7 linked regions of the Homo sapiens genome follow. The protein of the gene in region 1 purifies or fractionates together with the protein of each later gene. This does not show direct contact. Each region holds a gene or a part of one and is shown in the gene's direction. Other genes may lie near its edges.

Region 1 (3,500 bases):
CCTGCTGATTTTTAAATTTTTTTTTTTTTTTTTTTTTTTTTTTTTTAGTATTTATTGATCATTCTTGGGTGTTTCTCGGAGAGGGGGATTTGGCAGGGTCATAGGACAATAGTGGAGGGAAGGTCAGCAGATAAACAAGTGAACAAGGGTCTCTGGTTTTCCTAGGCAGAGGACCCAGTGGCCTTCCGCAGTGTTTGTGTCCCTGGGTACTTGAGATTAGGGAGTGGTGATGACTCTGAAGGAGCATGCTGCCTTCAAGCATCTGTTTAACAAAGCACATCTTGTACCGTCCTTAATCCATTTAACCCTGAGTTGACACAGCACATGTTTCAGAGAGCAGGGGGTTGGGGGTAAGGTTATAGATTAGCAGCATCCCAAGGCAGAAGAATTTTTCTTAGTACAGAACAAAATGGAGTCTCCTATGTCTACCTCTTTCTACACAGACACAGCAACAATCTGATTTCTCTATCTTTTCCCCACATTTCCCCTTTTTCTATTCGACAAAACCGCCATCGTCATCATGGCCCGTTCTCAGTGAGCTGTTGGGTACACCTCCCAGACGGGGTGGCGGCCGGGTAGAGGGGCTCCTCACTTCCCAGACAGGGCGGCCGGGCAGAGGCGCCCCCCACCTCCCGGACGGGGCAGCTGGCCGGGCGGGGGCTGCCCCCCACCTCCTGGACGGGGCAGCTGCCGGGCAGAGATGCTCCTCTCTTCCCAGACGGGGCGGCTGCTGGGCGGAGGGGCTCCTCTCTTCCCAGACGGGGCGGCTGCCGGGCGGAGGGGCTCCTCACTTCTCAGACGGGGCGGCCGGGCAGAGACGCTCCTCACCTCCCAGACAGGGCGGCGGGGCAGAGGCGCTCCCCACATCTCAGACGATGGGCGGCCGGGCAGAGACGCTACTCACTTCCTAGACGGGGTGGCGGCCGGGCAGAGGCTGCAATCTCAGCACTTTGGGAGGCCAAGGCAGGCGGCTGGGAGGTGGAGGTTGTAGCGAGCGGAGACCACGCCAGTGCCCTCCAGCCTGGGCAACATTGAGCACTGAGTGAGTGAGACTCTGTCTGCAATCCCGGCACCTCGGGAGGCTGAGGCTGGCAGATCACTCGCGATTAGGAGCTGGAGACCAGCCCGGCCAACACAGCGAAACCCCATCTCCACCAAAAAAATACGAAAACCAGACAGGCGTGGCGGCGTGCGCCTGCAATCCCAGGCACTCGGCAGGCTGAGGCAGGAGAATCAGGCAGGGAGGTTGCAGTGAGCCGAGATGGCGGCAGTACCGTCCAGCCTCGGCTTGGCATCAGAGGGAGACTGTGGAGAGAGCGGGAGAGGGAGAGGGAGACGGTGGAGGGAGAGGGAGAGGGAGAGGATTTTTAAATTTCTGTGGAGACAGGGTCTCACTATGTTGCCCAGGCTGGTCTAATTTAGAAGTTTTATTTATATGAAACAGTCCTAAGACAATAGTTTTAAAGGATGAAAGCATAATTAAAATGGATTTTCTTAGTTTCGGCTATACATTTTTCTTAGTAAAAAGTATTCAATTTTAAAGATACAGCTATCCTTTTTTTTTTTTTTTTTTTTTTTAGATGGAGTTTTGCTCTTGTTGCCCAGGCTGGAGTGCAATGGCATGATCTCGGCTCACCGCAACCTCTGCCTCCTGGGTTCAAGCGATTCTCCTACCTCAGCCTCCCGAGTAGCTGGGATTACAGGCCTGCACCACTATGCCCAGCTAATTTTTTTGTATTTTTAGTAGAGACGGGGTTTCTCCATGTTGGTCAGGCTAGTCTCAAACTCCCAACCTCAGGTGATCCGCCCACCTCGGCCTCCCAAAGTGCTGGGATTACAGGCGTGAGCCACTGCGACCGGTCAGATATAGCTATCCTTGAAAGTAGTTTTTTATAGCTATAGCTAATATAGTGCCAGTGGAAATTTTGGAATCTCATTTTAATGCTTAGTTCTGGAGATTGTCCTTATATTTTTGATAACTTGTCCGTTTTTGAGTTAATAATTGCTTTTTGTTTTGTTTTGTTTAGAGTCAGAGTCTCACTCTGTTGCGCAGGCTGGAGTGCAGTGGCATGATCTTGGCTCACTGCAATCTCTGCCTGCTGGGTTCAGGGGATTCTCCTGCCTCAGCCCCCAAGTAGCAGGGACTACAGGTGTGCGCCACCACACCTGGCTATTTTTTTTTTGGCTAATTTTTTTTTTTTTTTGAGATGGAGTCTCACTCTGTCGCCAGGCTGGAGTGTAGTGGCGCGATCTTGGCTCACTGCAATCTCTGCCTCCCAGGTTCAAGTGATTCCCCTCCCTCACCCTCCTGAGTAGCTGGGTCTGCAGGTGTGCACCACCACGCCTGGCTAATTTTTTGTATTTTAGTAGAGACGTGGTTTCACCATGTTGGCCAGGATGGTCTCGATCTCCCGACCTTGTGATCTGCCTGCCTCGGCCTCCCAAAGTGCTGGGATTACAGGCGTGAGCCACAGCACCTGGCTGATTTTTGTATTTTGAGTAGAGATGGGATTTTACTGTGTTAGCCAGGCTGGCCTTGAACTCCTGACCACAGGCAGTCTGTCTACCTTGGCCTCCCAAAGTGCTGGGATTACAGGGGTAAGCTGCTATACCTGGGGAGTAATTGCTTTTTTCCTCTTTGTTTTTGGATTCTAGGGGCCACTTAGAAGATGTGTATGATATTTGCTGGGCAACTGATGGGAATTTAATGGCTTCTGCCTCTGTGGATAACACAGCCATCATATGGGATGTCAGCAAAGGTAAATGATATATTTTTGTTATTAGCAGGAAGAAATATTCTAAGCATCTATAAAAGCCTAAAAGTCTAACTTGCTTTAACTTTTTTTTTTTTTTTTTTTGAGACAGGATCTCACTCTGCCGCCCAGGCTGGAGTGCAGTGGTGCGATCTTGGTTCACTGCAACCTCTGCCTCCTAGATTCAAGCGATCCTCCTGCCTCAGTCTCCCAAGTAGCTGGGACTACAGGCATGCACCACCACACCCAGTTAATTTTTGTATTTTTAGTAGAGACGGGTTTCATCATGTTGGCCAGGCTGGTCTCAAACTCCTAACCTCAGGTGATCTGCCCGCCTCAGCCTCCCAAAGTGCTGGGATTACAGGCATGAACCACTGCCCCTGGCCCTAACTTACCTTAACTTTATTTTTTATTTTTATTTTTTTGGAGACGGAGTTTCGCTCTTGTCCAGGTTGGAGTGCAATGTCACAATCTTAGCTCACTGAAATCTCCACCTCCCGGGTTCAAGCGATTCTCCTGCCTCAGCATCCTGAGTAGCTGGACTACAGGTGTCTGCCACCACACCTGGCTAATTTTTGTATCATTAACAGAGACGGGGTTTCACCGTTGGCCAGTCTGGTCTCTATCTCTTGACCTCAGGTGATCCACCCGCCTCGGCCTCCCAAAGTGCTGGGATTACAGGCATGAGCCACCACACCCGGCCTACTTGCTTTAACTTTAAAAGCAACACAAAAAATTGTTTTAGTG
Region 2 (3,500 bases), on another chromosome or scaffold:
TAGCTTATCTAAATTCCTGCTGGTGACATTCAAATATGTATTTTCATTATATTAAAAGATAATTACACATAAAAATGATTTAATAAAAATGATATACATACAGATTGATGCTTTGAACACTGTTTACATGTTGTGTTTTTTCCACAGGGTGGCAATCAAGGTTTGACAGTAGTAATTCAAGGACAAGGTCAAACTACTGGACAGTTGCAGTTGATACCTCAAGGGGTGACTGTACTCCCAGGCCCAGGCCAGCAGCTAATGCAAGCTGCAATGCCAAATGGTACTGTTCAGCGATTCCTCTTTACCCCATTGGCAACAACAGCCACCACAGCCAGCACCACCACCACCACTGTTTCCACGACAGCAGCAGGTAGAGCTGTGGGTTTATCGGAAATGTCGGATGTTACTACTACACGTGGCTGGGCTAACAGAGGCCAACAGGAGAACCAGTATTTACCTTTGGAAGGATATGCCTCAAGCCAGTGACCTCAACAGTTGACATAGTCAGCCTCACAACGTCTCGAAGCTTTTGTACCCTATTCTTACAGACTCCCTGTTACCACCACCCTCTCCCTCCTATTAAAAAAGAGAGAGAGAGAAAGGGGGCAAAAATAATGGTTATCTTGGTAACTATGCCCACACTTACTCCTTGCTAAGCCTTGTAGGTGCTGATTCAGTCATGGAGGTGATCTCAGGGAGGGTGGGTAAATCCAGTTCATGACCTCAGATTGAGAGTGGGTCCAGAACCACTTTGTTGACCTTCTGCTGCAAGTCATTGTAACTAACTACCACCACATCATGGGAGAAAAGTGAAGCGTGGCAATTAGCCTGGGCCAGATGACCCAGCTGATTTCCAGAGGCTGCAACTTACTTTGGAAACCAGCCCTCTAGAGTTAGGAGAGTGTACAGGGGACAGCCAAGAAGCAGGGCCCAGGCTTCCCAGTTTCAGAGCGTCCTGCCCTAAGCGTGTCCAAATGGAGCATTTCAAAGGCATAGACCTTCTGTACCAAAATACAAAATTCTCAACTTTATTTACTTTATTTATTTTTTCGAGACAGGGTCTTGCTCTGTCGCCCAGGCTGAAGCGAAGTAGCACCATTACTGCTTACTGTAGCCTTGAACTCCTGGACGCAAGCAATCCTCCCACCTCAGCCTCCCACGTAGCTTGGACCATAGCCATGCTCCACTATGCTCAGATAATTTTTTATTTTTTTTGTTTTTGTGTAGAGACGGGGTCTCACTATGTTGCTCAAACGATCCTCCCACCTCAACGTCCCAAGGTGCACAGGTGTGAGCCACCACGCCTGGCCAGAATTCTCAACTTCAGAAGATTTCCTTCAGATTCTTCTTTAACCACAGTTTTATGTTCCAGAGTAATAGAAATGGTTCATCTTTCCTTTTTACAGGTACAGGTGAACAAAGGCAGAGTAAACTGTCACCCCAGATGCAGGTACATCAAGACAAAACCCTGCCACCAGCTCAGTCATCAAGTGTGGGTCCAGCAGAAGCCCAGCCACAGACTGCTCAGCCTTCAGCTCAGCCCCAGCCCCAAACCCAGCCCCAGTCCCCAGCTCAGCCTGAAGTTCAGACTCAGCCTGAAGTTCAGACCCAAACAACTGTTTCATCCCATGTCCCTTCTGAAGCACAACCCACCCACGCACAGTCATCCAAGCCCCAAGTTGCAGCACAGTCTCAGCCTCAAAGTAATGTCCAAGGACAGTCTCCTGTTCGTGTCCAAAGTCCATCACAGACTCGAATACGTCCATCAACTCCATCCCAACTGTCTCCTGGACAACAATCCCAGGTTCAGACTACAACCTCACAACCGATTCCAATTCAACCACATACATCTCTTCAGATACCTTCCCAAGGCCAGCCACAGTCACAACCCCAGGTACAGTCTTCAACTCAAACTCTTTCATCAGGACAAACTTTAAATCAAGTTACTGTTTCATCCCCATCCCGTCCTCAGCTACAAATACAGCAGCCACAGCCCCAAGTCATTGCTGTGCCTCAGCTGCAACAACAAGTCCAGGTTCTCTCTCAGATCCAGTCACAGGTTGTGGCTCAGATACAGGCTCAGCAAAGTGGTGTGCCCCAGCAAATCAAACTCCAGTTACCTATCCAAATTCAGCAAAGCAGTGCTGTGCAGACTCACCAGATTCAGAATGTGGTTACAGTGCAGGCAGCCAGTGTGCAAGAGCAGTTGCAAAGGGTTCAGCAACTCAGGGATCAGCAGCAAAAGAAGAAACAGCAACAGATAGAAATTAAGCGTGAACACACCCTCCAAGCTTCTAATCAAAGTGAAATCATTCAGAAACAGGTAAAGTTATTAAGTAAAAGCAGCATGTTCAGTAGCTTGAATTATTGTGCTGTGCAGTAGAATTAGTGTTTGGTTGTGTTAGGTTTCCTAAATGAGACAAAGTCATTAATGTTTAAATTTAGAAGAAACACTGAATTGACCAAAAAAAATACTGAATGACTACTGTGGTGTGGAACACTTCGTTAGATACATATAATATATAGTCAGTGCTTATTAGGAATGACCTGTATTTTGGGAGGACTAAGATGGGAAGAATGGAGTTATGAGCTTTAATCTTTAATATAAAACTTGAGGGTTTAACTAAGTTTTAAAGCCACTTCAGACATTATAGCAATTCCTTTAAAGTTATTGAAAGTTGTCATTCCTTAGTTTGCATGTAGACTATGCAAATTATAGACAGATTAAACTCATTTGCATTTCTAGCCACACCTTTGTAAAAAAGTTTTTGAAAACATATTATTTCATAGCTTAAGTAAAAAGTGGCATCATCCAGCAACATCTTGCAATGGCACATTAGTGAAATAAAGCAATTTAGATGAGTTAGAATTAGTCTACTAAAGTGAAGTCACACATATAACATCTGATAACATTACTGGCAGAAACCATCTTTTCATCTACCTATAGCTTGCTTCGCTCAGCACTAGGCAGGAGTTTGAATGTGGATTTTAAGTGTTACCAAGTTGTGAGACCTTCATTCAGTTCCTAGGTCTCCCATTCACAGTCCGTGAAACTCACTTATCCCTCCTTAGCTATAGCCTCTTAAAACCCTTCTCTTTCCAGCCACATGAGATTATTGCAATGATTAAATGAGGTCATAAATGTAGAAGCACTTTTTACACAGCGAAGTTATTTTAAAGATGTAGTATTCTTATGAAAATGACGGTCATATATATTATATTTAAATGTATTATTACCCAGCTTTACTGTGTATCTATAAACTGAGAATTACTACACTGTCTGTCTATCCGCTAATCTTTGTATAGGGGAGACGAGGGACAGTTCTTTAAAATTCATTCCTGGGAAGAAAGCATAATGTTAAAAATACGGCCTTTGGAGAAGGATAGCCAGGTTAAAATTTCAGCTGTATTACTTACTGTTTGTCAAACAAGGTGGTTAATTTCTTTATGTCTCAGTATCTTGTTTATAAAATTATTGCTATGGTTCAGTGTTGTTGTAA
Region 3 (3,500 bases), on another chromosome or scaffold:
AACGGCAGCCTGAGAACTCCTTGGCCAGCGTCTAGGGTGGCCCTGAGAACCTCTGGCCCAGCAGTGGCCAAACTAGAGACCGCTGCCCTCTGCCCTTCACCACTGCCGCCCTGACCCTCCTGGGTCTCGCTGGGCTCTGCCTGCCATTGCTGAGCCCCTGCAGGCATCGTGTGGGTCCTTTGCATTCACAGTTTTTACTTCTCCCCATAGCCCTGGGGGAAAGGCTGCCACATTAGGCCCATTTCACAGATGAAGAGAGAGGCTCAGTGGGGAGGGGACTTGCTGGTATCACCTCCAGGAGGGGTAGCTTGAAGCCTCTGCTGCCCCTGTTGCTCCCTCCTCCTGACCTCCTGGTGGCCTTGTTCTCTGCTTGTTGCTGGTTGGGGAGTCCAGGTGGGGAACAGAAATAGCCCCTCTCGGCCGGGCGCGGTGGCTCATGCCTGTAATCCCAGCACTTTGGGAGGCCGAGGCGGGTGGATCACGAGGTCAGGAGATCGAGACCATCCTGGCTAACATGGTGAAACCCTGGCTCTACTAAAAATACAAAAAATTAGCCGGGTGTGGTGGCGGACACCTGTAGTCCCAGCTACTTGGGAGGCTGAGGCAGGAGAATGGCGTGAACCTGGGAGGCGGAGCTTGCAGTGAGCCGAGATCGCGCCACTGCACTCCAGCCTGGGTGACAGAGCGAGAGTCCGTCTAAAAAAAAAAAAAAAGAAATAACGCCTCTCCCCAGGTCCTGGAGAGAGTGGTGGACATTGAGTGGGGTCCCTGTCCTTGGCAGGTTTGCCGGCCTTTGCAACCTGGTGATGGTGTTCTCGTCCCAGCTCCTGGCTTGGCCCCTGCAAATCCTTCAACCACCCAGAATCAGATGACCTAACTTTCGCTCCACAGTCACGCGCCTTCCCCTTGTTTTGATCACCTTGTGTTTGCCAAGTGCCCTGGCGGCTGCGTCCTTGCTCTGCTGCTGCCCCTCCCCAGAGGAGTGAGGGGCTGGAGCCTGGGTCTGGCAGAGCTGTGGGGCTGTGTGCAGGGGGACTAGTGTGGTGAACCAGCCTTGACCCCCTTGAGGGACCTGTGACCTGCCAGACCACAGACCAGCCTGAGTCACCTCAGTGTCCCCAGGGCATCCACCGAGCCGGTTTACACAGCGTGGGCTGTTTCAGTGGGAGGGTGCTGGGGGAGAGACTTCGCAAGGGGGTGGGCGCCCACTGCCTGTGTTCAAACAGTGGCAGCTTCACCACTGCCAGCTGTAGGACTGAGATGTAGGTAAATAATGAGGTCCTTTGAGCCTCAGTTTCCCAATCTGCAGATGGGGATAAGAATAGAACCCTGAGCCAGGTGTGGTGGTTGTGCGTGTTGTCCCAGCTGCTCAGGAGGCTGAGGTGGGAGGGTCGCTCGAGCCCAGGAGGTCGAGGCCTGCAGTGAGCCATGATCATAACACTGCACTCCAGCCAGCGACTCTGTCTCTAAAATAAATAAATAAATAAATAAAGCCCCAAACCAGAAAGAATAGTACCCCTCTCTGAGTTGCTGTGTTGAACTGATACAAATTAATCAGTCCTAGGTACTTTGGGCCTGGCACGAGCCTGGCAGGTGGTATGCAGTTATCACGACTGCTGCTATTGCAATGCGCTACCCTGAGAAGGGCCCACCTCATCGGCCTGGCCGCAGCCTGCAGTGGCTCAGCCTAGGCCAGCCTGGGGGTCCCACAGGGCTGAGCTGGCGCATACTGGGAGCTAGAGAGGGGCTGAGGGAGCTCTGGAGAAAGCAGCAGAAGGTGCCTCTCCTTCCTCTGGTCGACTTGAGCCCCACCCCGCCTCCACCCCCAGGAGGTGGGTGATCACAGGGTAATGGGTCTTAATTAGAGCAGGCTTGGATCCGTGGAGCCTCAGGCCCTGGAGGGTTAGGGCTGGTGCATGAGGGCACTGCCAGGTGGGCCAGGAGGGTGGTGGGGCAGCCACGAGGGGCCAGGAGCTGGCAGGACAAGGAGTTCTGAGGTGAGGTTGCTCCTCCCTGGAGCCCCTCACCCGGGACGGGCAGGATGCCACCTTAACACTGGCTGCATGCTCTGCGTCTTGGAACCCTCTGGGCCTCTGCTCTGTCCCCACCAGATGGAGCCATAGGGAGGAGGGACTGGTGGGCTCAAGGGCACAGGCTGGGCTTGGGGAAAGGCTGACCGTGCAGTTGCTTGTATGGTGACCCCCAGATCTGGTTTTAGAAAGCTCAGGACCTGCTGCGGGAGCAGAGAGTGTCCAAGGGCAGAAAGGGGCTGGGGCTTGGCTGAAGACGGGAGCGTGTGAGGTGTTGGGGGGGGCAGTGTCATAGAGAATCAGGCGTGTGGTGACCTCAGGGCCACCCACCAGAAGCCATCTGGGGAGAGGAAGGGCCCATCAGAGACAGGGTTAGGCAGGGCTGAGTCCCCGTCTCCGTGTGCCAGTTCCAGAGCCTTCTCAGAGGTGGGTTTCACCAGGCAGAGGCCCTGGGCTGTGAGGTCTTCTGGGAACGGAGCTGGGGTCTGTCCATGGGCAGAGGGTCTGGGGCCTTGTCCTCGAAGGCCTGTTCTGGGCGTGGGTTAGGGCCAGAGCAGGGGTCCCCCTTTGTCCTCCCCTTACCCACGGGCAGATCCCAGACTTCCTTCCAGAACTTCTGGCAGCCACCTGTGCATACCCTCATCCGTTCTGTTGGTCAGGCCACCAGTCAGTGACCATGTGCTGGGCTGGGTTTCCTAAGTCTGGGACCACCCTGCCGGAAGGGGACAGCTGGGAGGAAGCAGGAGGGAGAGGCCCCCCCTCGAGATTGCATCAGCCAGAGCCCGTTACATAAGCAGTGCTGGGCACCGCCAGGGTGTGGGGGTGGCTCTGCCCAGGCGGTCTCCTGCGGTGGCGGGGGAGGCGGAGGCCCGGTGGCAGAGCGGGCAGTTGTGGACTGGCATCCCATCGGCTGCCCCACCACAGACAGCTCCCCGCCAGCCCTGCCACTGCCCCACCGACACCTGCTCTGCAGGACGACTCCGAGGGGGTCCCCGTGCACGTTTTCAGCTGGTTTGAAAAATCCCCGCCTTTCCACACTAGTGATCAGAGGAATGGGGTGGGGTCAGCCGGAGCAGCCCAGCCCCTGCCCCTGGCTGCTTGGGGCCTCACCCACATAAACCCACCTGGGGCGGCCCTTGCTGCTGGCTCCCCTGTGTGCCCTAGCCCTCCACAGGGTGCCCTCCCTGTGTGGGAGCCCCAAGCACCTGGCCACCCTTGAGGGAGGCCCTGGTGCAGAGAGGCACCAAGACAGTGGTGCAGCCCCCACCTTCCACTGGTGCAAACACCTTCCACTGGTGCACATTGGCCCCGTGGGATGCAAGGGTGGGAGGGGCGTCCGCTCAGCCACCAGAGCCCCGGTGCCCCCGAGGAGTGGGGACAGTGGGGCTAAAGCTGCACCCATAGTGTGGGCCATGGGAGCCCCAGAGACCCAGGGTAGGAGCCCTCCTGTCCCCCTTTCCCCGCTTAGGA
Region 4 (3,500 bases), on another chromosome or scaffold:
AGATGCGGCTGAATAGAAAGGACATTTACTTTGCAGTTAGGTAAAGAAGCCTCTAGCTCAGACTAGCTGCACTGTTGTTATTTGTGTGGCTTGAACCTAGTAATCGGATTCAGAACTGGAATGGGTTCCTTCAGGGTACTTTACAAACGTTCAGGATGCATTTTAAGTGTAGTCTAGAAGGTGGTACATGGAAGAGCTGAGGGACTTGAGGATTATGGACTGCGAAAGGACTGTAGGTAGTCCTGTATTTTGGCCTGTCACCAATATAGAGACCCCTCCTCATCATAGTGTCATCCATTCTCTTTTTGAAGACCCAGGGTGAAAGAAAGGGGGTCACAGTGTCACGAGATAGCCCATTCCACGTGGGACAGCTCTACTGCTTTTGTGCCTGTCTCACTGAAAAAAAAAAAAAAACAGGGAAATTATCTAAAAACATATGTTTAGGAAATATACACACATTCACACACGTACACAGACACATATGCACACACTCACATATACACACACATGAACACGCTAACACACATGTGCATGCACATGCTAACACATGCACAAGCATACACACACATGCACACAGTCACAATATACACACATGCACATGCTCACAAACACATATGCATGCACACGCTAACACACATATGTACACATAAATGCTTGCAAACACACACACACGTACATTTTAGTGAATAGCACACATCTATGTACTCCTGTGGAGAGTCCTGTGGTTTTAATACCTGTTAAAGTTGGGCTCCCAAAGCAGTCATTAAACGTGTTGGAATGATGCTTTTTGCTTAGCTGTTTTGGCACATTTGGAAATCTGCAGTATTACCTGTTGATTAGTAGACAGTAATGTGGCTGTATTACACACCCAGTGATTAGTTTCAGAAACAAATAGCATGTTAATAGTCAAGGAATCTTTGAGATGTTCTTGAGGAAACCAAAAAACTTGATTTAATGACTTAAATTCCAGGAACATCCCACTGGGCTTAGAGCTCTTTGTCAAAAGTTGGTACCCAATATATGTAGAAATGTAAAGTGACCAAATGTATAACATTAAATCAAAGCCATTCCCAGTTTGCTGCATATTTTTTAATGAAACCTGAAAAATAAGAGTCACTATTTTTAAATTCAGCCATAAGGAAACTTTGCAACCTAATAATGTGTAAGGCATTTCTGAGGCCCCAAGTGGAAATACTGGGTCTAGAGAGACCTTTATGAAATAGAACAGGTTGAAACACCTTCCACCAGAAAAGTGTAAGACATTTGAAAAAAGATTGAGTCAGAAAAGGGAAATGTGTCCCATTTGAGAGACCAGAAAGGGAAACAAGAGTCCAGTTCCTGCTGTGTCCGTGCAGTTGCCACAGCTGCGTTCGCTGACATGTCGGCTTTAATGGAAGCAGTGAGGACACAATCTGTCTGGCACAAGCTGGTTTGGGTGTTGTCTCATGCTAAGAAGGCCCTGGACCTGATGGAGAGCCTGGACCTGTTCCCTGTCCTTATCAATGACAGACGGAGGGTGGAACCTGAATTTCCTAATGGAGGGATCCTTAGGGATTCCCTAAGCTTAATTTGTTTTTGACTGTTCCAGTCCTAAAGGAGGTGGGTCCTGGACAGGAGGGAAAACAGCCTCATGGCCCATGGGTCTCTGCCCAGGGAATTTCAAAGCTTCCAGCGTTCATACTTCCCTTACCCTAAGACAGCAGTGCTGATTCAGCTTGAGTGTGCATGAGAATCACCTGGAGAATTTATTCAACATAGAAGGCTGCTTCCCCACCCTCAATTTCTGATTCAGTAAGTCTGAGGTGGTGCCCAAGAATTTGCATTTTGAACAAACTCCCAGGTGATGCTGATCGGGGGTGGGCCTGGGTCTGCGCTGTGAGAATCACTTGCCTAAGAGCACTAACAAAGAAAAAAAGAGGACATAACTAGATCACCCACTTCCTAGCCAGCAACCAGAGCCCATCTCTGGCTGGGGAGAATGAAAGCGAAGGTGGGAAAAGAAGAGGCCCTCAACCAGGGGCAGCTCCTTTTCCCCACCTTGGCCTGGGAAGGCAGAGCTGCTCCTCGAGTTTGACGCTCAGAAGCATTAATTGTGATACTTTACTTTGCCTAAGCCGTGATGAAATAATTGAAGGCATCATAGCAAGAAGTTAAGCCCTAGGGAGGCTATTAACAATTTAGCATTTCCAGTTCATGTGGGAATGTCGATTTTACTTACCAAAGAGAATATTATGGATGTGTTTAGTGGAAGAAGCAGCAGAATCAGCTGGGGTCCCCAGTTGGCTTTGCTTTGACCCTCTTCCTGAAGGAAGATAAATGCAAGGGTGAGTCTCACAAAGACAGTGTGCTTTTTTTCTAAAGTAAATAGCTTCTTAGGCTGATAGAAATGTTTTTAGCTGTCTAATTCTGCAGGGGAAGCAGAGGTAGAGGGTGAACACAGCAAAGGTGAGGCCAGGAGGCCCAGGCAGCAGAGCAGGCCTTGTTTTCCAATTGTGAGACCAAGTCAGTTCATTGGCACCTTTCGAAAGCCCCATGTAGCGCTGCTGGGCTGGACCCTCCCCCAAGACGGTTAAGTACTGCTTAATGGATCAGTAGAAACAGGACCTTCTTGTTGGGCAGTGAAGACCACGGCAGGAGCAGCAGGGGGGAAGAGACAAATTCCCAGGAAAGACCACTGGATCAGGAGTCAGGAGATTAATTCTAATCTTCACATTGTGGTTAATCATCAGTGTAGCCATGGGCAAGTCACTTAATTTCTCATGGCCTCAGTTTCCCCATCTGTAAAATGAAGGGACAGACTTGATGATAGCTAGGGTTTTTTACAACTTAGAAAACAAAAACAAAAACAAAAACAAAAACAAACTATGCTGCCAGATAGTCAGATGAGACCTCACTTTGCCACACGGCCAGACACTGTAGAGATCTGGTCCTGCCGTCAGCTTGTTTAGGGCTAATGGGTTTGTAGACAAGTTTGCCAACAAGAGATTCATGCGAGGGGCTAGGCATGGATTAGGTTAGCAGTTCTCCCATTTCTTGCTGGAGGCCTGCTGAAGCACTTCAGGGTCTCTTCCCAGAGTAAGTGGCAGAGAATTTGAAATTTGATACTCCCCATACAAGGATCCAAGTACCTGTTGCGTTTATGCTGGGATCACAGAGATACCTGGGTTGCCTGTGTTTCCTAAGAAAAGGATGTCTGTTTTGGCAGCAAACTTAGTGAACGGCTGAGGCAAAAACAAGTGCAAAGATGGATTCTCAGATTTCTCATTGAAAAATACCATGACAAAATCTGTAGTAATTTTACGCCACACTCTCAATTCACTTGACGTAAACAGTCAAATGTAGACATACTTGTTTGTTAAGTCCGGTCTTCCTGCTTGTGTTGGTTCACTTTGTGGTGTTTATTTTGTTTTGGGTCAGAGAGGATGAAATGTCTCTGTAGATGTTCTCAGGCTAGGTGGTGCTTCCACCAGGGCTTCCCTCTGCAGGCCTGGTAACAGCAG
Region 5 (3,500 bases), on another chromosome or scaffold:
GACAGAAGAATTTGCAAAATTATTCCCAGCATGACAGACTGTTTTCAGGTCTGAATGTGACTATTTGATTTTCAAATCAGCCAGAGATTTCAAAACTGAAGGTCCATGGAAAGATTGTTCAAGCTCTCGGAGAGAGATTTCTAAGGCATTCTCTTTGTTGAAGACATCTCTTTATGATGTCTTCCACAGGTGGACACTCTAACTTTGGAGCAGAAGCTATTTAGTGGTCCCTACCCCTATCACATCTGTATTATCCATGAATTCAGTAACCCTCCCAATGTCCGGAATAAGGTGCGCATTCGCAGCTGGATGGACACTATAGCAAACATCAATCAGTAAGTAACTTTGTGGCCCTTAAAGGCCTTTTGAGTCATTTCTCATAGCAGGGACTCCCAGAAGCAAATCCCAATTTTTCTTTATTTTAAATGATTCCATCTAAGCTTTTCAAACAAGCTTATCCTGAAGTTAACGTAAGTAAGAAACTGAGGGAAATGAGGACTTAAAACTAAAAAGCATGTGTATATATTTATGATCTTTAAAACTCAGGTAAAAATTACAAGAACAGATTGCACATGTACTTGTAACATTATTTAGCCTTGGGGCATGAAAAAGAGATCAACTTGAAGAAGATCTTAAGACTATGATATTCTATATCATCAGAAAATTTGACTTTTATAAATTTGTTATATAAATGTTGCATTAAGCACCTTTTGTGTAGAAGACATATGCTTAGAAAGTGACTTTCTTTCCCTGATATGATTTTGAAGATAGTGAAGAAAGTAGTTTTGACCTGACTACACTTGGATTCTCTAGTTTGAGTGTATCCTACTTCCGTTAGGTATTTGATGTTTTGTTTGAGATGTTCGGTAGAATCTGTGTCCGAAACAGTTTTGATGGTTCCTTCCTACCCGACACTAATTATTTCCAGTTTTGTAATTTTTACTTAATTTTTCCTGTTGCTTCCAGAGAGCTCATTAAATATGAATTCTTCCCTGAAGCCACTCGAAGTGAAGAAGACTTAAAGAAATACCCCAAGTACCCCTGGGGGAGAGAAATCTATACTTTAGAAGGTGAGTATTTACAAATGTTTAGAAAGTTAAATAGCCTGTGCAGTACTTACCTCTGTAATCCCAGCGACTCAGGAGGCTGAGGTGGGAGGATCACTTGAGCCCAAGAGTTCAAGACCGGCCTGGGAAACAAAACCTGGCCCTTTCTCATTCACGGATGAATGAATGATCCATCAATCAATTAGTCAAACTGGTTTGGGCTTACAGCAAGCAGTAACCCAAATGTAGAGAATTACACTTTTTAAAAAAAGAAAGTTGAATAGCTATTAACTAGATGACCGAACATGCCTTAGGGAAGATATGAATGGGGGTCCTACAGTTCTTCAAAATATGGATGATTTTAATACCTGCAAGAAGTGGGAGCCAGATGAAGATTGCTTTGCCTGTATGAGTCTTTACTATTTCTAGGACAATCAGAACCAGTGATGAAACATAAAACGTAAACAGAAATTACAAATTAGTTTGATAGCTGGAAATGATTTGAGGACACCTGACTCACTCTCTTTATTTTATATTTTACATTCTGCTTACAAAATACTGCAGAATTTGGCTCTGTCAGCACTCCCACGCCAGTTAGCAATGTTACATTTGTCTTTTAGGTGTTGTGGATGGAGCTCCATATTCCATGATTTCTGACTTCCCTTGGCTGAGGTCATTACGAGCTGCAGAGCCCAACAGCTTCGCTCGATACGACTTTGAAGACGATGAAGAAAGTAATTATGACCTGACTTGACATCTATTCTCTAGTTTAAGTATAGCCTACTGTGTTACATACTTAATATCTTTTTGTGAGTTAGGAGCAGTGCAGTGTTAAATGGTTTCCCATAGAAATAATTTGTATTTACTCACTTCAAAACAGTTCTTTATTTGTGCAGTAGATGTTCAGTGGACTTACTAGGGATATATAAAGGCTGGTAGAAAGGATTCCTTTAGACAGATTTTCCTACAAGATTTTTATATTACCTAAATATTTATAATCTTATTTATTAAATAACTTCAACTATATTGTTTCAAAATTGTTCCAATTGTATTATTCTCCTGCTAGTTATGAGCTGCTTATTGTGTGGAAACTTATAATTTAGGTGTAGAAATTAGGGGAGAAATTTTTGAATGTAGTTTCTCTAAGTGGTAGCATACTTGAATATTTATTGTTAACCAAAGGTTTTTTAAAAATACTTTATAAGGAAATGGATTTTATGAACTACATGTGCATGTGTCTGACTTGCCTTTGGTGCAGTATTTTTACCTTGAGACTTTAAGCATGTATTCTGTCTTAGGCATCAAACATAAGAACAAACTGGTGGTGACCCATTCCTTGACCTATTCATGCATCAGTTACATTATAGTGCAGTATATGGGACTGTCCTATGGACCAGCTTATCAGTGATTTTCCAAATGATTCTGATTATCATATGTATCTCTCCTTTTATTTCTAATTTCAAAGGCACTATCTATGCTCCTAGAAGGAAAGGACAGCTGTCTGCAGACATCTGTATGGAAACAATAGGAGAGGAAATTTCAGAGATGCGTCAGATGAAGAAGGGTGTATTTCAGCGAGTAGTGGCAATTTTTATCCACTATTGTGATGTCAATGGAGAGCCAGTTGAAGATGACTACATTTAATTGGTCCCTCCTCCTTTCCAGCTATTTTGTCAGAAAGCAAGTAGGGCCATCCAGCTGCCAGAGTGCTCCACAGGGACTTGAGGCATGCAGTTGGGAGGTCCTGGCTCGGTTTGCTATATAGGGAATATATAAGGAACATCGAAATTGTATACAAAGATTTGTACATAAAAAATATACAAAGACGCTTCCTAAAGTACCAACTTTATATCATATGTTTATACAATTTAATTTAAAAATTCATTTTAAGGAAGACAGATAATTTGAAAGACTTTTGTTTTTCTTGACTTAATTCATGAAGTATCATTTTTTGACTGAGTCTCCATTTACTTCATTCTTAATGATTATTGTCATCCCTTTAAATCTGTGCCTTTTTCTTCTTGAGCGAAGCTGTTTGAGTAAACCTGTTGAAGAGTGTTTGTGTCTTTTGTGCTTTTTTGTTGTTATTAAAACACCAACTAAACCTTATAGTCAAGACAAGGCTCTATGTTTCTGTACAAAGCTGTAGTTCTTTCTTAGTATTATAGTTGCCATGTTTCTTAAAATCAAGTAAAAAGACTTATGAGCTTAAAAAAAAGTGAGTTTGAGAGGGAAATGGAAAAGTTTCCAGAGTATTTCTAGTAATTTATTTCCACATTGAATTGTGTATATGCTTTATCTTGAATATAAAATAAAAGTTTATTAAAAACTTTTCTCTTGCCTTGGACCTGAATCCCTCTTTTTAAAGAAGAGTAGCAAATACTGCACAGAAAAGCAGTGTATATATAGAGTTGTATCTAAGGTAAGATTCCAGTGTAATCCAATTTCTGATCT
Region 6 (3,500 bases), on another chromosome or scaffold:
TGGGCTCAAGTGATCCTCCTGCCTCGACCTCTCAAAGTGCTGGCATTATAGGTGTGAGCCACAGTGCCCACCCCATTTCTCTCTTTAAACTGCTGTCCTCCACATGTTGTCCTCTGCTAGCCCTTATGGTCCCGTGCTGACTACAGCTAGGTGTCTCATCAAATTAAGTAGTGCCTAGCAGTAATAGGGCCTCTTCCTCTATAGTTTTTTTTTTTTTTTCATAGGTGCATTGGCTGGAAATACATATCTTTTTAAGACAACTGTTTGTTTATTTCCCCTGTGGGACCCCATGCCACTCTCACCCCTCACCAGGTAGACTTCTCATCTTGGCCAGCATTGGGTCACAATGCTTTTGTCTGAACCAGTCACTGGCTGGGAACATGGGATTACTGTGAGTGGATTAGATCATCAGGATTCACTTAGGAGAAATACAAATGTCTAGACAATCAGGCTGAGTCAGCCTGAAAGTGAAAGGTTGTGACTATGGGGATAGTCTGCTGCCTTGGGAAAAACAAATATGAAGGGTAAAACTGTTGAAGAAGGGTCCAGCAGAATCATTGTGAGTGTTCTCTTTCAGATGGGGGGTTGGGCATAGGTGGATTATTTTTAAGTGTAAAGTCCATTTGTAAAGCCAGATTTTGAAATGGAAGGCAGATTGTTTTCTAGGAGCAAGGGCATTGAGGGAACAAGAAAGAGTGGAGACCTATAGGAGGGGGGCATTAGTTTCAGCAGGAAGCAGGGGCCATCTCTTTTTGAAGCTGGAGGACTGGAAGAACAGAGTTAATGATAAATGAATGGCTTTATTTGAGCAGGAACTCATGCTGGCTCTGTGTACCTGGGCCCATCTACCCACCCCACGTTTCCTTACTTTAGCCATCTAATTCTTTGTATTGCCTTTTTTTTTTTTTTTCACTTTGTGTATCTAAGTCCTGTGTGTTTTTCTGAATCCATCTTGTCCATCTCTTCCATACTTAACATTTTAACTAACCTAAATACAACAGCCCACTCTGTGTGGCCCCTCTGGGTACCGCCGATTTCAGGATCAAGACCAAAGTTCTCATCGTGGCTCTGGAGGCCCCGCAAGATCTTTATATCCCTTTTTCTTATTTCCAATGACAAGATTTTAAGAGCAAATCAGAAACCCATCACACACAGGAAAGGAGGAAGAGGCAGGCCTCAAAAGCAGTGAAAAAAGGCCGGGCGCAGTGGCTCACGCCTGTAATCCCAGCACTTTGGGAGGCCAAGGTGGGCAGATCACAAGGTCAGGAGATCGAGACCATCCTGGCTAACACGGTGAAACGGTGAAACCCCGTCTCTACTAAAAATACAAAAAAAAAATTAGCCGGGCGTGGTGGTGGGCACCTGTAGTCCCAGCTACTCGGGAGGCTGAGGCAGCAGAATGGCGTGAACTCGGGAGGCGGAGCTTGCAGTGAGTGGAGATCGCACCACTGCATTCCAGCCTGGGCAACAGAGCGAGACTCCATCTCAAAAAAAAAAAAGCAATGAAAATAATATTTAAATTTAAAGATTTTTAGATACTCTGTTTTTTACACACTATAGGTTTAGTCATATTTCAGTCACGTTCTTTCTTACATAATCGTTCTTGAAATTGTGTTATTACCACATATGATTTATCTTGGGCCATCTTTCCCATGCTAATTCCTATTTGTGTTTGCCTGTATCTATCTTGTCTCTAAAAAGAGAATGTTCTTAAATTGTGGGAAATGTTGTGAATTCATAGAGCCCCAGATTTATTTGTTGCCTTGGAGATTATTATGATTAACACCAAAAAGCTAGCTGATACCACAAAATGTAAAGGAAGTTTGGTTTACCTAATGTGTAAGTGAAAAGAGATAGACAAGAAAGCATGTGGTTGTTGCAGTAAATGCTGCTTTGTGGTCTGATCCCATTTTCACTTGCCCTCCATGTCTTCTCACTTTGCAGCTGGTGCATTGCAGTGGTCAGTCTCCTCACTGCTCTTCCTGCTTTGTTGCCCCTCCATTCCTGGGACATTGCACATTGCCACTGGAGCTAACTTACTTCAGAGCACTTACTGATCACGTAGCTCCTTGCCCAGTCTTCCTTGGCTCACAGCCAGGAAGGGGACTCATGACTGTTTAGTGTTGCAAGACCCTGGACTTAAGACTGCTTCTCCAATTTCCAAACCTACTGGACACTTTTAAAATTTTTCAAATAGGCCATGCTGTATCATGCCTTTTCTTTTTGTACCTGCTATATTCTGTTAAAAAATGCTGTCACTGTCCCTCCCATTGCCTCAGAAACGCTGTATGTCATGTTCTGTAGTGTGTTGATAGAGAAGGGTTTGATTTGGATTAATGAGGGGCTTTCATCCAAAATATAGGAGCTAATCATATATTCTCTATTACAGAGGCGTACTTTTCTACTGAGCAGTTCTCCAGAGACACCTTAGCCACTATTTTGCCCACCACTGTGATAGCTTTTGGTGGGAGGATCAGTTTGAATGTGTGTAACTGATATCTTCAGCACATGAGTACTTTAGCAGTGTTTTGATTAGATCTTTTCTGAAGCTGTATTCATCTCATTTTTTTGCTGCTTTCTAATTTTGCGAGTACCCTGGCATGGGAATAGGAAAAAGGGGGTGGGTAGTGGCAAATTTCTGAAGAGAAATATGTCATCTCTCCTTTTTTGCCCCCGCTAACAAAAGTCGAATTGGGAGCTTTTGTGTGTTTTCTTTTTGTTTTTTGGTTGGTTTTGTTTAACCCTTTACCTTGTGTCCCCAAACTTGGGACAGTATACTTTCTTTTGCCCCTTACTACAGGTGAACCTTCCTAAAAGATTTTTTCTTTTTATTCTCCGTAAAACATTTAAAGCATTCTTTAATGAAATAGTTTTTTAAGCAGGTTGTGTAATGTTTTCCATGTAACAGATTGGTTTATATATAGTTTGGCTGCTTCTTGCTAATAATGAAGGGTTTTCTCTCCTGATATTGTCTGAGAATCTATCATAGATGAGGTTAGATTGCCTTTGGAAAGATGCTTCTAGTTAATTCCTGTCCTATATAATTAGTTGAATTCATCTGTGAAGGATGTGAATTTTTCTTTGATCTTTTTATTTCATGAGCAGCTTTGTGAGTACATTCTCAGGTCTAAAGTCCTCACCCTCTTCTCCTATTCCCCCAGGGCCCCCAGTGAAACACACACATACATTAAACAGTGCAGTTTGTTATTTCAGGCCTTTTTCTTTGCATTTATGAAAGTAGGTCGGCATGCTGCCTCACACCTGTAATTCCAGCACTTTGGGAGGCCAAGGTGCGTGGATTACTTGAGCCCAGGAGCTCGAGACCAGCCTGGCCAACATGATGAAACCACGTCTCTGCTAAAAATACAAAAATTAGCCAGGCATGGTGGCACGTGCCTTTAATCCCGGCTACCCGGGAGGCTGAGGCATGGGAATCACTTGAACCCAGGAGGTAGAGGTTGCAGTGAGCTGAGATTACACCACTGCACTCCAGCCTGGGT
Region 7 (3,500 bases), on another chromosome or scaffold:
GCCAATTCAGTTTCCAAACACGCTGTTTCTTTAAGGAAACATAGCATCAGCATAACATGCCGTTATGTTGTCCATAAGAGAGAGTATATGTAGCCTCACAATTCTAAGACATATCACCTGCTGAATTAATAATGCTCCATACAAAACATTCATCTTGGGGGGTAAGGTTTACTGGATAATGCATTGTTTTACGATGAGCAACTATCTACAGTGTCTCAGCCTAATGTCTAAAGGCAGATAGAGGGAGGAAGAGTAATTAATATCTTAATAAATACTTAAGCCAAAATAGTGTAGGGATAGTGTAATGAGGGAACTCTGTCCTTTTCTCTTGTCCTACCCAGCGAACTTTTACACTTTGTAGTACTAACGGTATGGGATCATTAGAGCAGTGTTGCCCAAGGATTTCTAATTCTGTAGGGGGCACAAACAATTTTGTTTACACTTGGACATATTCAGAATGTTGACATGCATACTATAAATTATATATATGAGACATTTGTCAATTTTCAAAGCCCTTATTATGGATGCTAGAAGTTTAATAGTAAAGCATGTCGAAAATGCTACGGGTTAAGAAAAATAGTATATTGAAATAGTCCTCAAAAGTGAGCAATTCAGAACATTTAAACACAGAGAAAATAACGTTTTATAAATTATACAATAGGATAGTAGTAACATTTCAAATTATTCAACTTGAACTATTTTTACATTTACTTTAGAAGATCATTAATAAAATGTTTCATACTACCTTTTAGGGGAAATATATTGCTTTCTAAGTTTTTATTTTCTGTATTATTCTAGTTCATGGCATAATCACTCTACTTTTTGGAATTGTGCTTTAAACATTCAAAATATTTTATTTATAGGTCAGTCTATTGAGTAAGCTATGACAGTTAAGCAGTGGTGAAAACAGCATATATATTCCCAAGACCCCAAAAATGTATCCTGACAAGGAATTCTCAAAGCAGCTCATATAGTGAATCAAGCAGATTATAATATTTAAATTTTTAGAAAGCATCTCACTATTTAATATATTATTTGAAAAGCAAGAACGCTTATTATATTTAGAAGCAATAAGTAGCTTGTTTGTTCCAATGCGGTTATATCACCCCCTTTCTTTCATATGATTACATCGGGGTCATGATGTTACCATCTTCTCTATCAGTTGTACTAAGCTTCCTTCTATATGATCCAGTCTGTAAACCACCATCTTATGACAGGTTAAAATTTTTAAAAGATTACCTCTGATATCCAGATTCCAGAAATGAATTATATAAGGCTTTTGAAATATAAAATTATAAGGAATACCTACTTGTTTATGTAAAATGCAAACAAAATGATATTGTATATTAGGTTTATTTCTTCTTAAACAATTTTTTTTTGCCTGTGACATGTACAGATTAAGCATCTATCTCAGATATCAGACATCTGTCCCGTAAGTTTATTTCTTCCTATTTTGTCTTTATCTTGTCACCATTGCTTTGCTTTTTTTCTTTTGTTCTCTTTATGCATGCATTTTCTTTATTCTGTTTTTCACATCTGCTTTGTTTTTCCTCTCATCTATTTTTTCTTATACCAAGGAAACAACATTCTTTTTATGTTGCTTCATTGTTAAGACCTGCTCTCTTTCCTTTTGTTTTCTTTTTAATTATTTTCTCTCTTTTAGACTCCTGTCATTTTTCCCTCTTTTCTAAGTCTTTTTGCCTCTTTGTCCCATTTCACTCATCAATTCAAGTTCCCAACAAAAGCACCAAAAGACAAAAATAGGCCCAAACACATAATACAACTTTGTATCGATGGTCTTAGTTATGAAATGTTTTTTCTTAGTAAACATCATTTCTCTTAAAATCTTCTGGAATTTTGCAAAATAGCAGAGATGTGCTGACACTCTTCAAACATACTTCTAGATAGTAAGTTTTGGCCTTGTAGTGGGAAAGAGAAGAACGGTTCATTTTGTGTGAGGTGTATTAATTCCTTAGTAATTTTGATCCATTCTGGAAATGACTTCTGCTAGTGCTCTTCTTCTCTCTACTTATCTCCCAATACCAAGTGTTTGTAATTTTCAGACACAGAGCATTTTATATGATGGAACTAAACTAACTTTTATTTATATACTTCTTACCAATTTACAATTTGAAATTATCTTCTATTCTTTGTGACAGCCTAATAGGTAGATGAATCACATCATTTTGTCCTGATTTTATAGTTGGAAACTGATGCACAAATGTTAGTCTAGGATCACAAAGCTAGTAAATGGTAGATAATAAATCTACTTGTTGAAACCAGGACTAGTAATTACTGTAGATTCTTCCCCTCTTTCTTCTTTACCACATTGTTCTGTAGATTGAAAACAAAATATGTATCTGAAATTTGAAAATTAAGCCATGTGTAGTAAATGTATGATACAATATAGTAAACAACATTTGATGACAAAGATAGATTTTTGATCAGCTATTATTTAATGGACTCTGTTTCTTAAATGTTTATAAACAATTTATATGTATAAATGTAAGTATTTCTATAAATATGTATATATATTTATATATTCTCTACAAATAGTATGACTAATACTGATCCAAATTTACAGATCAGATTGTGGGTCAAAAATTTTTAGCTTTTGGAGGGTGGAAACTCAGTCTGAGGACCCTGCCCCAGGAGCAGGAGCTATCATATCCTCCCCTCTGCCACTTTCCATTGCAACTAATAAAGCCTGTTTGTACCATAAACACACACACACACACCCCTTTGAGTAATTTTTCAAAGGTCACATAGCTCTTAATATAAGCTTCATGAGGGCATGTACTTAGTCTGTTTTGCTCGCTACTGTATCCCAGAGCCTACAACAGAGCCTTCATAATAAATATTTGTAGAGCAGATCTTTCACAATAAATTTTAAATAAGGTGGTAGAGCCAGGATTAAAACCCCTCACTACAACTACCACTTTTTAAAATATGTCCTGCATTATTAAAGTATACAGCTTGATTTTCTATGAGGAAACATTCCAACAAACCAAAACAAAAAGTCAAACAGCACTACAATTGTTGACTTCCCACTCAATCCAGTAGCTGAGATTACAATCCAAAAATTAATGGTATAAGGTCATTATTTGATACCTTGAACTATATATTTTCATCTGAATATATAAAAGTAGAATATCCTATTTTCCTTTTGAGCTATGTCATTATACTGCTAAAATTATGGATGAAAATGGAAATGTTTCAACCTGACCCATTGCAATTTCTGTGTTACACATTTGCTCTTAAGAGTACAGCCAGGCTGCTGGGGTTACTCTACCCTGTACAAACTTTGTGCTTTATGGAATCTGTAACTTCAATTTCTGTTCTTTCCTGAATCCAAAATTCTATCCACTTACAACCCACGTTATAAGTGCCTAGCTGAAATGCCACCTCTTCCTCTCACTATAACCGATGACCCCTCCTTACTGAGACTCATGGAATGTATAATGATTAGCTAATTTACATGGAATTTACCAGGTACTGTC

The links.
Region 2: the proteins of CHAF1B (region 1) and BPTF purify together in Homo sapiens (affinity purification with mass spectrometry, with the first as the bait; one large-scale study listed by BioGRID). This does not show direct contact.
Region 3: the proteins of CHAF1B (region 1) and CHD5 purify together in Homo sapiens (affinity purification with mass spectrometry; one large-scale study listed by BioGRID and IntAct). This does not show direct contact.
Region 4: the proteins of CHAF1B (region 1) and BCL11A purify together in Homo sapiens (affinity purification with mass spectrometry, with the first as the bait; one large-scale study listed by BioGRID). This does not show direct contact.
Region 5: the proteins of CHAF1B (region 1) and FBXO38 purify together in Homo sapiens (affinity purification with mass spectrometry; one large-scale study listed by BioGRID and IntAct). This does not show direct contact.
Region 6: the proteins of CHAF1B (region 1) and WAPL purify together in Homo sapiens (affinity purification with mass spectrometry; one large-scale study listed by BioGRID and IntAct). This does not show direct contact.
Region 7: the proteins of CHAF1B (region 1) and ARB2A purify together in Homo sapiens (affinity purification with mass spectrometry; one large-scale study listed by BioGRID and IntAct). This does not show direct contact.

The regions. Positions count from the first base shown.
Region 1 is NC_000021.9:36,391,892-36,395,391, forward strand, and holds part of CHAF1B (chromatin assembly factor 1 subunit B), read left to right. Parts: intron 1-2,655; coding exon 2,656-2,759; intron 2,760-3,500. UniProt on the Homo sapiens protein: Acts as a component of the histone chaperone complex chromatin assembly factor 1 (CAF-1), which assembles histone octamers onto DNA during replication and repair.
Region 2 is NC_000017.11:67,944,003-67,947,502, forward strand, and holds part of BPTF (nucleosome-remodeling factor subunit BPTF), read left to right. Parts: intron 1-147; coding exon 148-370; coding exon of another isoform or gene 371-482; intron 483-1,406; coding exon 1,407-2,323; intron 2,324-3,500. UniProt on the Homo sapiens protein: Regulatory subunit of the ATP-dependent NURF-1 and NURF-5 ISWI chromatin remodeling complexes, which form ordered nucleosome arrays on chromatin and facilitate access to DNA during DNA-templated processes such as DNA replication, transcription, and repair.
Region 3 is NC_000001.11:6,170,322-6,173,821, reverse strand, and holds part of CHD5 (chromodomain-helicase-DNA-binding protein 5), read left to right. Parts: intron 1-3,500. UniProt on the Homo sapiens protein: ATP-dependent chromatin-remodeling factor that binds DNA through histones and regulates gene transcription. May specifically recognize and bind trimethylated 'Lys-27' (H3K27me3) and non-methylated 'Lys-4' of histone H3.
Region 4 is NC_000002.12:60,470,155-60,473,654, reverse strand, and holds part of BCL11A (BCL11 transcription factor A), read left to right. Parts: intron 1-3,500. UniProt on the Homo sapiens protein: Transcription factor. Associated with the BAF SWI/SNF chromatin remodeling complex. Binds to the 5'-TGACCA-3' sequence motif in regulatory regions of target genes, including a distal promoter of the HBG1 hemoglobin subunit gamma-1 gene.
Region 5 is NC_000005.10:148,439,458-148,442,957, forward strand, and holds the end of FBXO38 (F-box only protein 38), read left to right. Parts: intron 1-189; coding exon 190-335; intron 336-966; coding exon 967-1,070; intron 1,071-1,666; coding exon 1,667-1,780; intron 1,781-2,511; coding exon 2,512-2,690; 3' UTR 2,691-3,379; downstream 3,380-3,500. UniProt on the Homo sapiens protein: Substrate recognition component of a SCF (SKP1-CUL1-F-box protein) E3 ubiquitin-protein ligase complex which mediates the ubiquitination and subsequent proteasomal degradation of PDCD1/PD-1, thereby regulating T-cells-mediated immunity.
Region 6 is NC_000010.11:86,438,293-86,441,792, reverse strand, and holds part of WAPL (wings apart-like protein homolog), read left to right. Parts: intron 1-3,500. UniProt on the Homo sapiens protein: Regulator of sister chromatid cohesion in mitosis which negatively regulates cohesin association with chromatin. Involved in both sister chromatid cohesion during interphase and sister-chromatid resolution during early stages of mitosis.
Region 7 is NC_000005.10:93,877,664-93,881,163, reverse strand, and holds part of ARB2A (cotranscriptional regulator ARB2A isoform 1 precursor), read left to right. Parts: intron 1-3,500. UniProt on the Homo sapiens protein: Plays a role in the regulation of alternative splicing, by interacting with AGO2 and CHD7. Seems to be required for stabilizing protein-protein interactions at the chromatin-spliceosome interface. May have hydrolase activity.